Linked DNA regions of Homo sapiens: all the other regions are reported to be linked to region 2. The links are microRNA targets in miRTarBase. Many come from high-throughput screens and were not tested one by one. Region 2 holds a microRNA gene; each other region holds the end of a gene's coding sequence. Distances are between the middles of the regions.
Evidence for each region. Region 2 holds the annotated microRNA hsa-miR-4433a-3p (ACAGGAGUGGGGGUGGGACAU, at 2,584-2,604, shown strand). A microRNA usually pairs through its seed, bases 2 to 8, with sites in the 3' UTR of a target mRNA and lowers its output. Matches are read on the target gene's strand: a 7mer-m8 pairs with bases 2 to 8, a 7mer-A1 pairs with bases 2 to 7 and ends in A, and an 8mer does both.

Region 1 (4,000 bases), not on the chromosome of region 2:
TAAATAGCAGTTAATAACTCAGATTTTTAAAAAACTGATTTATTTATTTTTAGAAACAGGGTCTTGCTATGTTGCCCAGGCTGGCCTCAAACTCTTGGGCACAAGCAGTCCTCCCACCTCAGCCTCCCACCTCAGCCTCCCAAGTAGCTGGGACTATAATAGGCGCCACCACTGTGCCCAGTTATTTTTAATTAAAACTTATGGTTTGTTTAGTTATAAATAAAGTTGACATTTTAAAAAACAGACTAGTTTCTTGCTAGAAATACATGTTTATGTATGTGTTGTGAACATATATATGATTGTGTTTTAAAACAGATATGACCACATTCTGAAGTGGGAACTCTTCCAGCTGGCTGACCTGGATACATACCAGGGAATGCTAAAGTTGCTCTTCATGAAAGAATTGGAGCAGATTGTTAAAATGTATGAAGCATACAGACAAGCCCTTCTTACAGAGTTGGAAAACCGAAAGCAGAGACAGCAGTGGTATGCCCAACAACATGGAAAAAATTTTTGAGCTGATTTTTTAAAAATTTAAGTTTTGTAAGAGCTTTAAAATATTTTCACAGATAAAAAATTGCAAACAAGTACTCTGGTTAATAAATGCTGCTTCCTTTGTGGAAATTATAAAATTCTAACTTTACATGTATTTTGTTATTAGAAATTTTCTTTTATTGAATGAGAAAAATTAGTCTATCATTTTAAGAGCCAATATGGCAAACACTTTCAAATACTGTATATTAGGAAACTGTTTTGGTATTCTTGATGGAAAAAAACGCAGCGGAAATGTCATTATGAACAGATGTTAAATAGGAAATTATTACTTGTTAACTTCTTACAGCAGTAGTACCTTCTTTAAAAAAAAAAAAGAATCTGCGGTATTTTTTTAAAAAAAAAGTTTACCGCTGTAGTGTGAAATATTGTCTGGAAAGGGATGGTTTAAATATTACCATGATGTAGTTGAAATATAAAATAGGATTTGGAACCTTATTGTGATAAATATTTATATATGATGTATGTTTGTCTCCCCTCTCCAAAGTAAGGAACCCAGCTGGGCGTGGTGGCTCACTCCTGTAATCCCAGCATTTTGGGAGGCCGAGGTGGGTGGACCGCTTGAGTCCACGAGTTTAAGACCAGCCTGGGCAACATGGTGAAGCCCCATCTCTACAAAAAATACAAAAAAATTAGCCGGGTATGATGGTGTGTGCCTCTAGTCCCAGCTACTTGGGAGGCTGAGGTCAGAGGATGGCTTGAGCCCAAGAGGCAGAGGTTGCAGGGTCAAGATCGCACCACTTGCACTGCAGCCTGAGAGAGAGAGAGCCAGACCTTGTCTCAAAAAATAAAAAATAAAAAAATAAAAACAAAATAAGGAATCCTTTTAAAGCATGTTGAGAAAGTATTTTTTGGTATGAATGGGTGACGGGCCTTTTAATCTTTCAGGAATACATATAAGCAGGAATACTTAGCCTGTATTGGGAAGGTGCGTGAAACTCAAAGTTGCTAACATCATCTTCCTTATTTTCAGCCAGTGCTGTTACTGCATTTAGCATGGCTCTGACGAGGCAGTGGAGAGTTCCTGACAGCATAGCATACTGCCTTCTGACAGACTGGGTTAAGCTACCAAAAATGACAACCAGGGATTCAAAAAAAATTTTTGGTCATTAAATCGAATGTATATTATTACTTTTTAATTTTCTAAGTATTTATCACAGGACTTTAACACCATATATTTCCCTCCCAGTTTTTCTCCCCTTTTGGTTTAATAGTTAAAACATTTTTCATAATTAGTGCTGTACATTTGATTGCAAACAAATTGGTGATACTTCTAAACTATAACTATAAATCTCTAGAATTCTGTGAATTTCAACATTATTTGAAGTAGTTCTTCAGTTATATTTACATGTGTTGTAAATATGTAAATATACTTTTAGCTTAGGAAGTCTTCCAGAATACAAACTACTCCCAGTTAGATATCAGTGAGTTTGAATAACTGAAGAAATGTTGACAATGTTAAGTGTTTGATTTTATATAACAAGCTTATTAAATATATTTTTGTGGAAACTAAGCGCGTGGTTTTTGAGTCCATGTTTTAGACATAGTGCTGTATTTCATTTTTCTGTTCAAAAGGCCATAGACAAAGGAATCAATATAATTGAAAGGGGTAATGAAAAGGGGTATTGAAAAATGAAAGTGTGGCTAGTGGAATTTTATCACTGGGAAAAGATAATTTGCTGAACTTGTGATCAGACTTTTCTAAGATGTCAGTATATATATCTTATGAACTCCCACACTCCTCTATCTTAATTGTTCTTTCCTGTCACTTCTTACTTTATATCGCTACTTAATTATGGTGTAGCCATTTCTGTGACAGTCTTTAGAAGTTTCTCTGTTTTGGACCTCCTAGATAAGTATTACTTTTTTCATTAACACACTTTCCTTCTTCCTCTAAGAAGTCTGTTCAGTGAAACTCCACTAGAGATTTTAGTCATTAAGAACTAGAAGTTACCTAAAGGAATTAGCATGTTTTGTAAAATAGAAACTTAAGTTTGTACTGATGTCAACATTAAATAAAATGCATCTTGAGTCTAAAAAAAGAGATAAACCTTCATCATTCTATATCAGCACCTCTCATTTTCAAATTCAGTAAGCATTTGTTTTTAATCTTAGGAACCAGAGTAAACTTTAATAATAGTTCACATATTAAAAGAATAAACCTATGAAGAATACATTCTTTGTGTACCAAATGAAAAAATATACAATGCAGTGAAACTCACATATACAAAGTGATTTTTTGTGCATTTTTTATCAAGAGGTTTATATTCTATTAAACCATGTAAAAGCAATATCTGGTTTTTGATAAAGCAACTAAGGAACTCTAAAATGTGCTTAAAAATAAGATTGTGATATATATAAGATGATACAGATTAAATCCAGCCTGCTGAGTTATGATGCTGTGTTTTAACAAATGGCTAATGTGAAATAATTTAAAATTTTTTCTGTAGAAATTAAATGAGCATATCCAAACGTGGAATATCACATGATTTAATTATAACCCAGTAGTAGAATTTAGTAAATTCAAGCAGAACACGTGTACTGTTATCATAAATAGACAAATACTTTATAACAGCATTTTTGAAGAAAAATCAGGAAATTGTACATGTTAACAAAATAGTATAACCATGCATACATACATCTGCTTATTAAACACTGAAGTAAAAGAACTAATCCAGTTTGCAGTCTTCAGAGGTGTTTAGTATTTTACTCCGTTCTGATGGAAGCACTTTGAATGTTTGCATGGAGACATAAAACTGAATATTTAATTGACAATTGGTCATGCACCTGTATTTCTTAAAATTTGCATTACATTTTTTTCTTTTCTGATTGTTCAGTAGATTCCGACTTTGGTGTAGGGAAAGCTTGATGATACAGATGTCTGTGGGTTGCTGCTGCACTGTAAAGCTTGTACAAAGCCTAGAATAAAAGCATCAAAATTATAAAACATTTTATTAAACACACAGATGTAAAATTTTTTCCTTTTTAGTTTATCGTACTGTATAAAATTTAGCATGTTGAATTTGAAATCTTTTTTAATCGATATATAAATTATTATCTTAAAATTCAAAAGTATTTTCAACTCCTCAATGTGTGCATTAACACTTTTGTGTGTTGACCTGTGTGGTGAATGTTTTATTCTCAAACTGTGTTTCCTTTTACCTTGCATACCTCTTGGAGCAGTGAGCTTCTACTTTGCCCCAGGGGTGTGCTGAAAATTCAAATTGTGAATATTAGCAGTTTTAGATGAATTGTAAGACCTCATAACTTCTGATTGGCAGTAACTATTATGCATAGCTAGGCTACTTGCTTTCTGGGCTTCCAGTGTTTTCCTGAGTGGGGCCAATTTTATTCTCCATCATTTACTGATACAGTCATGCAGCTAAGCACATATGGTGTCCTTCCCCCAGCACAGTAGGATCCTTCACTTTACACGCTCTTGCCTTGT
Region 2 (4,399 bases):
AGGGTGGGATTGTTTTTCCAGGGCTCCTTGCAAGGAACTAGGAGAACTCTGGCAGGAGCACCCTCCGGGAGCAGCAGGGCCTCCTCAGGTGGGTTGTTTGTGGTCAGACAGGTCCTCCCAGTTCCCTCCACACTGAGAGCATTGGAGAGAAAAGAGCAAAATGAAGTGATTACCCTGAGGTACAGGCCATACTGAACACTGTCTGTGAAACAATGGTGGGGTTTGGGGTCCTCTTTGGCACTGACTTAATTTTTTCCTAAGCCCATGGGCTTAGGGGCCAGAAAAGCACCAGGTACTGCGTTAGCAGTGTCCCTCAGGCCAGATGCAGTGGCTCGTGCCTGTAATCCCAGCACTTTGGGAGGCTGAGGGTGGAGGACCCCTTGAGCCTAGGAGTTCGAGACCAGCCTAGGCAACATAGCTAGACCCTGTCCCATTTATATTAAAAAATAAATTTTTAAAAAAGAAGTGTCCCTGAAAGAGTTAACACCAAAAGTATTTGCTAAAGATCTTAAATGAAGTAATTTTTTTTCAGTTACTTGCATAGGAGTAAATAATAGTAATAAGTAACACCTGCTGAGCCCTTAAATGCAGGCATGGTGCGCTACCTGCTTTACATTGAGTTATGTGACCCACCTGCATGTTTCCTCTCTCAGACCAGGTCATCATCTGGTGATGGGGTGGGGGTACAGTTGCTATACCCTCATTATGAATTTCTTTATTAACCTTAGTCCTGTTTACCTCTAACCTAGAGGCTTCTGAGCAAGCGCCCTCCTGTCTGCCATGCTCTCCTCTGGGCAGGTTTAGCTGAGAGCTGGAAGCAGAGATGAGTCAGACATGAGTACAGTCTTGGTCTTTAGGGGCTTTTATCCCACAGCTGATTGTGGCTAGAGGGGGTGGGGCTGTTTTTAGCCCAGCTTGCAGCCTTACCCCCTGCTGCTTGCAGCACCATCAGAAGCATACCTGCTCCAAGAGAGAAAACAGACTTTGACCACAAAAGGACACATGCTTCTCTTTTGCATGTCCTCGGATGCCTACTTGGGATCGCATGGGTGCTGAGAAGATGCTGTTGATGGTTTGCCCTGGTTGTAGCTGCATTTCTAGGGGTGTGGCCTAAGCCAGGCAGTCGGGGTGAATAGGGCTTCTCCTTTCAGAGGTTCTTCCAAGAAGGGAAAATCGTGTGCCCATTGATTTTGTTTCCACCACAATCTTTGTCCAGGCCATCCATCACCTTTCCCCCTGAATCTACAACCCCTTCAGGGGTGTCTCTGTTCCCACCCTTCTCCTGTCCTATACAGTCTGCACTTGATGGCCCAGAGCAGCCTTCCTCTGACTGTTCTCATCAAGTGGCTATAACCACAGTGCTCACCCAAGGCACACTGGGGGAAATTCAAGCTTCTCCTGCCCTTTTCCTAAAATACTCATGACCACCAAACACTATTTATTCCAGTATATCTTGTGGAAGGGGGTGTTGCTGAGTATTAAGCAAAAAACTTTATTTTTGTATATTCAAACTTATGGAATAAGTTCAGGAAATACTGAGTTAAAAGGGTTAAAGTGTTGGTTTTTCAACTGCAGGACTTCTCAGACTCTTTGAGATGCTGATGTACACAAGGGGTATGGGCTGCATGTTTCTACATGCTGATTTGATATAGAACCCTAGATAGAGCATCTCGCAAGACCAGTGGTCCCTGGAACCCAGCTTAGAAAACACTGCCCCAAAGAAGTCTCCTGAGAAAAATGTATTGCTGTTGATCTTTCAGCCTTCGTCACTGCTATCCTTCCCCTAAAGGGCTTGCCTTCAGCCTCTCTACCCATCCTGGTTCCCCCAGTGCTTTGGAACCAGGACAGACACACTCTGCTCCTAATAAGCATTTCATAGTCAGCCCCAGCCCAGAGCTCTCCTTATCATTCATTCATTCATCAAATATTTTTTGAGCATTTACTTTCTTCCAGGAGCTGTGCTAAGAGATATAGTAGCAACCAAGGAACATTCCAGTAGGAAACAGACAGGTAAGTAGATGGGTTTAGTATAGTGTGAGAAGTACAATACAAACACACCCAAGGATAGATCCAGATTGAGTCTTGGACAGTCGGAAAGACTTCCAGGGGAAAAAAAATGGCATCTTTTCTTCATTTCCACACTTAGCAATTTTTCTATATTGGTTTGTCATTTATTCATTTAATCACCAATCATTTATTGTGGGCTGGGCACTGTGCAGAGATAGTAATCAGACTTGACTTGAGGACGATAAGAAATCACTGAAGGGATTTTAAGCAGAGAAAGGACATGATCTATTTACACTGGTAGATGTCACTTTGATTGTAGGAAAAGTGGACCGGCCAGGGCAAGGCTTGAGGCAGGAAGCCAGCTAGGAGACCACTGCATGAACCCACATAAAAATGAGGACCTGGGCTAGGGAAGTAGCAGGAAAAGTGGATTTTGACAGATATCTAGGACAGAGCCAACAGGACTTGGACAGCAATGGGATGTGGGGGAGTAAGAGGGAATAGTTTAGGATGATGTTCTTTCCCCCATCCTCCTTACGTCCCACCCCCCACTCCTGTTTCTGGTGAAATATTCAAACAGGAGTGGGGGTGGGACATAAGGAGGATAGGGAACACAGGATGAAGGGCAGGTTACAGGGGTCCACGTGCGAGGGGAAGATAATGTGTTCAGTTTTAGACATGCTGAGCTCATGATTCCAATTCCTTTGGACATTCCAGTGGAGATATCTGGCAGGCTGATTTTTCTCACGAGAGAAATCATGTCTGGAAATACAGATCTGAGAAGCAGCAGCAACATATGGGTGGCCACCAAAGCCGTGGACTCAGTCAGCACCATTAAGCCAGAGTGATGGGTGAGATGGGTGACAAGGGCCCCCCTTGCAGCAGGTGGGTGACAAAAGAAGAATCAGTGTTGCAGCATGGGAAGGACTGCCCAGAGAGAAAGGAAGTGAACCAGGAGAGGATCTAGAAAAAGGACACTGGGCAATGAGAGCTTGGAGCGGGCCTCTGCACCAGGGGAGGGGTGGCTTTGACTGGCAGATACACATGTCTAGTACACGTGGAGGGTATGAAAACTCCAGGGAAAGAGAGGGGCAGCAGGAGCTCCCTCTTTTTGTAAAACAGGCTTTCTCTTAGGCGTAGCCTTCTAACTGATCTGCCCCACTATCCTCAACCCACTCTCCACTTCATAGCCAGATAGGTCTTTTCAAAACACATCTCTGATCACATCACCGCCTCTCCCCCAGCTCTATTAAAAACCTTTGGATATTTCTATGGCTCTTAGCATGCAGACCAAACTCCTACCTGGCCTGGCCTCTACTTCCTTCTCCAGGTGCACCTTCTGCCAGACTCTCTTGCTCTCTCCCCTGCAGCCAGCTGGCTTCCATTCGGCCTCGCAGACTCGTTGCATGGGTGTTACATTGTTGCTGTCAGAGCCATGTCCACCCTTCCCATCCCGTGGTCCCCCGATCTGCTCTGTGTCACTGGGGGCTGTTCCAGGCTCCAGAGCCAACTGCCTTCCAGTAAAGTTCAGCCAATGGGGAGTGAGGGAGGGCAAAAGATATTGGAGGTGAAGGAAGGAGAAGCCAGAGTACTTCTCCTGCTTCTCTTTCTCAGGAGTCTCTTCTGTGGCTGCAGTTCCCACTACACAGCCATCTCTGTGTGATCCCTGCTACCCATCTTGGCAGGCCCTCTTTGTTCCAGCTTATCTTGTCTTAGGCTCCAGAAACTGTTTCTTTCCTTGTTCTCCAGCTTCCAGGGTGGTGCTATGGGTTGAATTGTGTCTCCCCTGCAAGTTCATGTGTTGAAGTTCTAACCCCCAGTACTTTAGAGTGTGACCTTATTTAGGGTTGTGGTCTTTATAGAGTAGCCGAATTAAAGTGAGGTCATTAGGGTGGACCCTAATCCAATATGAATGTTGTCCTTATAAAAAGGGGAAGTTTGGACAGAGATAGACACACACAGAGGGAAGACGATGTGAAGAGACATAGGTGAAAATGGTCATCTACAAGTCAAGGAAAGAGGCGTGGAACAGATCCTTCCCTCATAGGCCTCAAAAGGAACTACCCCTTCTGACACCTTGATTTTGGACTTCCAGCCTTCAGAACTCTGAGACAATAACTTTCTGTGTGAAGCCACCCAGTCTGTGGCACTTTGTTACTGCAGCCCTAGCAAACAAATACAGTAGTCCCAGCTTCCTGGAGTTGCTACTCTCAGGGTTCCCCTGGGAGCTCTTTCAACTCCTCTGACTCCCCGTATGAAATTCCCTCTATCAAATCACCTAGAGTGGGTTTTGCTTTCCTGGCTGGGTCCTGACTAATATGCCTGCCATGATCCTTTCTGCCACAGAGGACATAGTGCTTCCTCTGCCTGGTATTTTTCCCCCTCTCATCTT
Region 3 (4,000 bases), not on the chromosome of region 2:
GGAACGCCTCCATCGCCCTGTACAATTCTGTCTACTTCATCGTCTTCTTTGGCTCACGTGGCTTCCTCATCCCCAGGCGGGCGGAGGGGGACACCAAGGTTAGCCAGGCCGTGCTGAAGGCCAAGATTCAGAAACTGGCCGAGAGCCTGGAGTCCTGCACCGGGGCTCTGGACGAACTCAGCGAGCAGCTGGAGTCTCGGGTTCAGCTCTGCACCAAGTCCAGTCGTGGCCACGACCTCAAGATCTCTGCTGACCAGCGTGCAGGGCTGTTTTTCTGAGAACATCCTTTCCCCCTAATGACCGAGGCCAGCAAATCATCCTCATGGGATGCTCCAGAATTTGTAGCTCCCTTAGGAAAACACCAAGCTGGGTTAGGAGCCGAAGGCAAAGGATGAGAAAAACTGTTTTTGAAGTGGGCAGGTCCCCAAAGCCCTTCTTTTCCCATCACTGTGACATCTGCCTGGGCTTGAGTGCTACGGACTTTTCAGTCTTCCTAGTGGAAAAATGTGACCCAAAAACTCTTTTTCCTTTATCAAAAACTTTCTGTCTAAACACAGCTGGGCAGGCACTCCTGTTTTAAAGTTATTTCGGGGTCCCTGACCCTGCCCTGGTGGCTTGGCCTGAGACTGGAGAGAGTGCCATCCTCTGGGTCCTCTCCAAGTCCTACTAGTCTTTGAAGTCCTCAAAATGTGCGTGAGGAAGGCGTTTGCCTCTATTCCAGAATTTCTGATACAAAGAACTCCAGAATCCAGAGCAAATCAGCCCTTCTCTGAACGTTGTAGGATGGTTCAGAACCCAGAGAGGACCCTGGTGCTGATATCTCCTCCTCTTCCCTTTCCCCTCAGCTTACTTACTCCCAGATGCGGCCTGGGTATGAAGTAGGCCTTTCCTGAGTGGCTCCCAATCCAGTCCTCCAAGTACTCAGAGGGGAAGCCCGTGAAGCCGTCATCTAAGTCCTGCTCCCTCACATGAAGCTGAGGGCCAGATAGATGGAGCGACTGCCAACTTCATTTCCCGACATCATTGTGTTCAGAAGAGAGTGATGGGTTTTGAGTTAGACAGTCCTGGGCTTGAGACAGGCTTTGTCACTACTGTGTGAGTGTAGCCACCTAATCTCTCTGAGACTGTGTAAAACAAAGATGATAAAATCTCACCCTGTTGTGAGATATTAAATGAGCCAAAGTGCCTAGCATGATGGTGCTGGCTCATATAGTGTAGTCCCTGGAATGGCAAATTAACATCACCCAGGAACTTGTTAGAAAGGCAAATTCTTGGACACAACCCTCCTGATTTATGGAATCAGAAACTCTGGCTGTGGGGCCCAGCAACCTGAGTTTAAACAATTTCTCTGGGTGGTTCTGCGGCACACTAAGGTTTGAAAATCACTGCAACAAATGCTAACTTCTAATCCCCTTGATGAGCTTTCACGAAGTCTCACGGCTTCTCTAGGGACTCCATGGTCTTCAGAGTCGTTCACAGATGACCAAGGACAGACTGTGTCCCAGAAGCCAAAATGAGAGAGAGAGAGAGAGAGCACGCGTACGTGCACCCTGGGGCAGTGTCTCACCGTATGAACAAGGGATGTAACACTAAAAGCCCATTAGGGGGCAGTGTTTCCCGCCTGTTGTAGAAACTGGTACAGAAAGGAATATGAAGTTCCTGAAACTGACCTTTGTCTATTATTACCTTCTCTGAAAAGTGCCAGTCCATGTATTTTTTATTTATTTTAAGTTTGTAATTTAATTTTTAATTATTGTTTAGTGTTTGCATTTAATTTTATTTAATCACCACATTTAGAAAATAATAAGAGCAAGTTTCTAAATGGGAGACTGCTGAGGCTCTTTGCAAGAGATGAGATTAAGTTTGAGTTTCTAAGGCAGGGCATGAGCTGGAAATAGCATTGCTTTCCTTGATTGTCTCTCTCCTTCAGGGAGATTCTTTTTCTCTAGTGTTTTAAGTGATCCTTTGAAGTAAGTGTGGAGAGTCTTGAATGGCAAGACCAGGAGCTGAGTTTAAGCTTGTAATGGAAGCTTGCATTGTGGGATATATAACTGAGGAAGCATATTTATCCTGAAGGTATTTTGCCAGAAGGTATCACTTGACCTGGAAAAGGAATCTATTTAGTTCAGGAAAGATAAAAAGTTTAGAGGTATGTGAAGGAAGCACTTAGAACTTGCAAGCCTGATGTCCTATCAAGTTATGTCTTCTGGGTGACAGACAAAATCGCTTGTCTTATGGTGGTGATGTGTTGCATTTTCACTTTGGGGTCTGTAAGAAACTGTCAGTGAAAATATGTACAATTCCTTCAATTTCCATTCTTAACAACTGTAATGTTGAAAAATAAGTTGAAAAGTCTTTGGGACCATACATGCAAAAACGGTGCCTCTGTTACTTAATTATTTAATATTCTATAAATGTACCCAATCTGTCCGCACCCTTCCCAGTGATGGGGCAGTATGTCTGAGGAAGTATAATTTCAGTACTGGGGTCGGGGAGAGGAGGTGATGTTTCTACATTTTTATTTTTTCTATAAATTGCAATTGGTCTGTATGCTGGTTTATTTTGAAATTTATATTGGTTTCTTTTCAAGCTGGTGTCATCTCCTAGACTGTTTCACCCAGATGCTAGCATTTTTTTTTTTTTTTTGAGACAGAGTCTCACTCTGTCACCTAGGCTGGAGTTGCAGTGGTTTGATCTCGGCTCACTGCAACCTCCGACTCCTGGGTTCAAGCAATTCTTCTGCCTCAGCCTCCTGAGTAGCTGGGATTACAGATGTGCACCAGCACACCCGGCTAATTTTTTGTATTTTTAGTAGAGACAGGGTTTCGCCATGTTGGCCAGGCTGGTCTTGAACTCCTGGCCTTATGTGATCCGCCCACCTTGGCTTCCCAAAGTGCTGGGATTACAGGCATGAGCCACCTCGCCTGGCCAGATGCTAGCATTTTAGATCAAACAATTCATTTTAGATGAATTGTTTTGTTTCACAATCATTTTAAATCATTTTAGAATGTACTTCACATTATTAGTTGTGTTATGGCATAAAGGTACAACCATTCCCTAACTCCATCTTTTATTAATGCTTAAGTTTAAATTATATTCTTCCAATGCCTAAGCTATTCCCTAGAATTAAACTGGGCACTTTTGGAAGCAGCAACAGTAACAGCAGCAGCAAACTTTTCCTCTCATATTTTGGGTGTATCAAAAGTTCTAGACTTTTGAAGTTATGATTTCAGTGGCCCACTTTATTTCTAAGGAAGAGTGTCTACTTTGGAACGATACTTTGCACATAGTAGGAACTCAAGAAATACATTTGAATAATTATAATTAACTGTTTAGCTATCTTAATGAGAATTTGTTGACAACAAAAGATCATCCATCGCCTTATGTGTGAGTAAGATTGGAGCCTCTATCAAGATTTAGTCAAGTTCAGTTAGATTGATTCTAGAAACAAATATTTATTTCTTTCTTTTACGGGGATGTGAATAAGGCTTTTCCTTAAGGCCTTCATTCTTTAAACAAACAGGTTGAAATGGTATGTTGTAAAAGAGAAGACGGGAGAGAGGTATTTAGATGATAAGTGTACTTCACAAAAATGCCAAAGTTTGAAAAATAGGTATGTTTGTTCTAAATGTTTAAGTGCTTCTCTGTTAGGTTCTGGGGCTTGCAATCATTTGAATTGTTCTGTTTCACAATAAAGGAGATTCACTGGGTTCTGCATTTTCAGGATTCAATAGAACTGCTCCATTAAAAAAATAATCCTTAGCAAGCATTCGAATCCTAACTGCTTTGATGCACTTGCCCTCGGGCACCTGTCATTTCCAATATGGTAGGTGTCAAAGTCAAAAGTATTTACTGGGAGAAAAAAGAGAGGAGTGGTTGTAGAAGTCTCCCTAAATCAGACATGTCAAGCAATCAGCCAACGTGGTGTATTTCTCATTCAATATTTTAGTGTGAATTGAGACACTGAGATAAAGACATCGTGCAGAGATAAATGGGGATA
Region 4 (4,000 bases), 120 Mb from region 2:
GTAAAGTGAAAAGCCATTATCTCAACTGGTTTCCTTCAAATTTCTGAGAAAGTCAACATATTTCTCAAAGAAAACTTAAGCTTTTAATTGAATTCTCTCTGTGTTTTGAGAGTGGAGAACAGAATGGAAGAAACCATTTCCCAAAGAAAACTTATGTTCTTAATTTTGATTTCTTTGTGTTTTTTTTTAGGAATGGAGAACAGAACAGAAAAATCCAGAAGCTATACTGTATATTACCCTAAATGATGTTACAAAATCAGCAAAAGCTTTGGTTTCTTTTTGTTTGCCTGAGTCCCTTTGAAAAAGCATTTTAAAAGCATCTGTTCAAGGAAAGGGAAGGGCAATGTTATGTTTAGCACCTCAGGGTGTCTCAAATACTCTCAAGGGGCATTGAGATGTTTTCCAAACACAAGTAATTCAAAATCACTTAAAATAAATAAGGGCCTTAATCAGGTTTTAAGTAGAGAGAAACTTGAGAAATAAACAAAGAGTCATAGCAGGTGGTATAGAAATTCCAGAAAGTTTTGGCTTAACAAAGAAAAAGTCAGGGGATCGGTGGTGATATCCCCTTTATCATTTTTTATTGCATCTATTTGATTCTTCTCTCTTTTCTTCTTTATTAGTCTTGCTAGCGATCTATCAATTTTGTTGATCTTTTCAAAAAACCAGCTCCTGGATTCAATGATTTTTTGAAGGGTTTTTTGTGTCTCTACTTCCTTCAGCTACAAGGCTACAGTAACCAAAACAGCATGGTACTGGTGCCAAAACAGATATAGACCAATGGAACAAAACAGAGCCCTCAGAAATAATGCCGCATATCTACAACCATCTGATCTTTGACAAACCTGGCAAAAACAAGAAATGGGGAAAGGATTCCTTATTTAATAAATGGTGCTGGGAAAACTGGCTAGCCATATGTAGAAAGCTGAAACTGGATCCCTTCCTTACACCTTATACAAAAATTAATTCGAGATGGATTAAAGACTTAAATGTTAGACCTAAAACCATAAAAACCCTAGAAGAAAACCTAGGCAATACCATTCAGGACATAGGCATGGGCAAGGACTTCATGCCTAAAACACCAAAAGCAATGGCAACAAAAGCCAAAACTGACAAATGGGATCTAATTAAACTAAAGACCTTCTGCACAGCGAAAGAAACTACCATCAGAGTGAACAGGCAACCTACAAAATGGGAGAACATTTTTGCAATCTACTCATCTGACAAAGGGCTAATATCCAGAATCTATAGTGAACTCCAAAAAACTTACAAGAAAAAAACAAACAACCCCATCAAAAAGTGGCTGAAGGATATGAACAGACACTTCTCAAAAGAAGACATTTATGCAGCCAACAGACACATGAAAAAATGCTCATCATCACTGGCCATCAGAGAAATGCAAATCAAAACCACAATGAGATACCATCTCACACCAGTTGGAATGGTGATCATTAAAAAGTCAGGAAACAACAGGTGCTGGAGAGGATGTGGAGAAATAGGAACACTTTTACACTGTTGTTGGGACTGTAAACTAGTTCAACCATTGTGGAAGTCAGTGTGGTGATTCCTCAGGGATCTAGAAGTAGAAATACCATTTGACCCAGCCATCCCATTACTGGGTATATACCCAAAGGATTATAAATCATGCTGCTATAAAGACACACGCACACGTATGTTTATTGCGGCACTATTCACAATAGCAAAGACTTGGAACCAACCCAAATGTCCAACAATGATAGACTGGATTAAGAAAATGTGGCACATATACACCATGGAATACTATGCAGCCATAAAAAATGATGAGTTCATGTCCTTTGTAGGGACATGGATAAAGCTGGAAACCATCATTCTCAGCAAACTATTGCAAGGACAAAAAAACCAAACACCACATGTTCCCACTCATAGGTGGGAATTGAACAGTGAGAACACACGGACACAGGAAGGGGAACATCACACACCGGGGCCTGCTGTGGGGTGGGTGGTGGGGGGAGGGATAGCATTAGGAGATATACCTAATGTTAAATGACGAGTTAATGCATGCAGCACACCAACACGGCACATGTATACATATGTAACAAACCTGCATGTTGTGCACATGTACCCTAAAGCTTAAAGTATAATTTAAAAAAAAAAGAAAAAGTCATGGGAGGGGTGGAGAAAGACAGAGAAGGAGAGGGAGAAGGGGAGAGAGGGAGAGAGAAAAGGAAGAAAGAAAGGAAGAGAAGGAGGGAGGGAGAAAGACAGAAGAAAGGAACAGAAGGAGAGAGAGAGGAATCTAGAATAGTCATTTATACATGTGGTATGCTTATCAACGGGTTTCACACTTATTTTCTTGGGGAAAAATACTAAGGAAAATGGTTGTCAACTCACTGCATTCTTTATAGCTCCATAAAACTCTCTTAACTTCTACATTACAAAACTCATATTCAAAATTAAAAGCAATCATTTTACATATTTGAATCTTGATATTAAGATCCCACAGTGGATTACACATTTGATTTTTTCTTCCTGCCTTCATTTGTCCTTTACTGACTTTTGAGAAATCTTTTTATTTTTTATCCATGATACATTTGAATTTCATTAATATTATTAATAAAGGACCAAACTGAGTATTCTTCCATTCCCCCTAAATTTTGTAGTTTAGATACTTTGCCTTCACAAATAATGTATAATTAAAATTGTTCAAAATGCCCAGAATTTTAAATTATGAAAAAGCCATATTCAATAAATATACACTGTCATATAAAATCTTGCTTTATGCTAATGCTTTATCTTTTCTGCCAGTTCTATAGGGGTAAAAGTATCTTTCTTTTATTTCTATAATTCGCAGCATAGTACCTTCCTAGGGATAAGCTCATAAAAGATATTTGTTTAATTAATGAATAAATGACTATATGAATGAATTAATGGAATTTCTTATTTTATGATATGGAAGATTTATAAACTGCTATATTATTTATCAAAATGCAATAGGAAATAGATGGCCCAAATTTCAAGTAATAGCTAAAAGAGGAGGTAGGAAGATTTGGCATAGATTTTTGGATTTATCATTCTTCTTTCTTAATAACTAGAGAAAATGCTGGGAAATATATATCTTGCAGCTTAGAAAATGAAGAGAATTCTGTAGTTGTATAATCAACCATTAATGTGTTGTTGGTGGGAAAAAGATGTTTAGTATCTAATATTGTGGTGTATTGAATCAAGAAAACTGGCATTTCTTCATCATTTAAAAATGAACATTGTGTTCTGTTCTGAATACAGAAATATGATCAATGCAAATCTCAAGCTAAAAGCTTTATTAGATATTTCTCTTTAAGCTAAACCCACACACACACACACACACACTCATGTCTAAATGTGTTTACTATTTATTTTTTACTCTTAAAGTGATGTTATTTACATGTGTTGTTAGAATGCAAACCTTATCAGTAGGACATCAAGGATTAAGCTCTGGCAGTATTAAAGTTAGAACAGTCACATGTATGCAAATTTTTACATAGTTAAAAAGAAGAATCACTGTAAAATAAATGCTTATTCTTTAATTATAAGTGATGTGGAACAATGTGTACTTAGTTCTAAAGTTCAGTCAAGGAGACTTCCAGGATGTGCATAGCTACTGTATGAGTGTGGGGTGCAGAGATGGAGGATGCTTCTGGAAGTCAAGCAGTGGAATTCCATGGTATACTCAGAAAAGTTAATAGTTCAGTTATTTCCAAGAAGCCTTCTTGCTGCAGACCAGTAATTAATGGTCCCGCTGCTCCTCTCTTTCATTGGTGCCTTCTTCTTCTTCAGGGAATGCTGATTCATTCTGGCCTTTCAGATGCTTAACCCCTGAAATTATAAAAATTATGCAAAATTTAAATGATTTTCATTTCTGGAATATTAACCGCTTTGCTGCAAAAGATAAAGAAAAGAGTGCAAAGTTTTCATTTGGTGTTTATATGTTTTTCTCCAAGAATCTTAACAATGTAATCCTATATAAACCTTTTAATTCACTGAG

Region 1: the mRNA of SAV1 is a reported target of hsa-miR-4433a-3p. Seed matches in the 3' UTR shown: 7mer-m8 at 1,068-1,074.
Region 3: the mRNA of APOLD1 is a reported target of hsa-miR-4433a-3p. Seed matches in the 3' UTR shown: 7mer-m8 at 568-574, 7mer-A1 at 1,284-1,290, 7mer-m8 at 2,717-2,723, 7mer-A1 at 2,750-2,756 and 7mer-m8 at 2,853-2,859.
Region 4: the mRNA of PPP1R1C is a reported target of hsa-miR-4433a-3p. The part of its 3' UTR that is shown has no 7-base or 8-base seed match.

The regions. Positions count from the first base shown.
Region 1 is chr14:50,631,700-50,635,699 of GRCh38, reverse strand. It overlaps SAV1 (salvador family WW domain containing protein 1), which reads left to right. Exons shown (of 5, transcript NM_021818.4): 5 at 316-2,120. The coding sequence ends at 517. ATL1 (atlastin GTPase 1) reads right to left here. Exons shown (of 14, transcript NM_015915.5): 14 at 2,655-3,471. The coding sequence ends at 3,361. Among named protein-coding and RNA genes, the nearest start is that of SAV1, 35 kb to the left of the region's middle.
Region 2 is chr2:64,338,226-64,342,624 of GRCh38, forward strand. MIR4433A (microRNA 4433a) reads left to right here and starts at 2,534; the gene lies at 2,534-2,614. It overlaps MIR4433B (microRNA 4433b), which reads right to left and starts at 2,623; the gene lies at 2,522-2,623. It overlaps LOC105374768 (a long non-coding RNA gene), which reads right to left and starts at 3,484. Exons shown (of 3, transcript NR_189739.1): 1 at 3,310-3,484; 2 at 1-132.
Region 3 is chr12:12,787,375-12,791,374 of GRCh38, forward strand. APOLD1 (apolipoprotein L domain containing 1) reads left to right here. Exons shown (of 2, transcript NM_030817.3): 2 at 1-4,000. The coding sequence ends at 278. Among named protein-coding and RNA genes, the nearest start is that of APOLD1, 3.7 kb to the left of the region's middle.
Region 4 is chr2:182,117,038-182,121,037 of GRCh38, reverse strand. It overlaps PPP1R1C (protein phosphatase 1 regulatory inhibitor subunit 1C), which reads right to left. Exons shown (of 5, transcript NM_001080545.3): 5 at 3,282-3,831. The coding sequence ends at 3,743. Among named protein-coding and RNA genes, the nearest start is that of PPP1R1C, 130 kb to the right of the region's middle.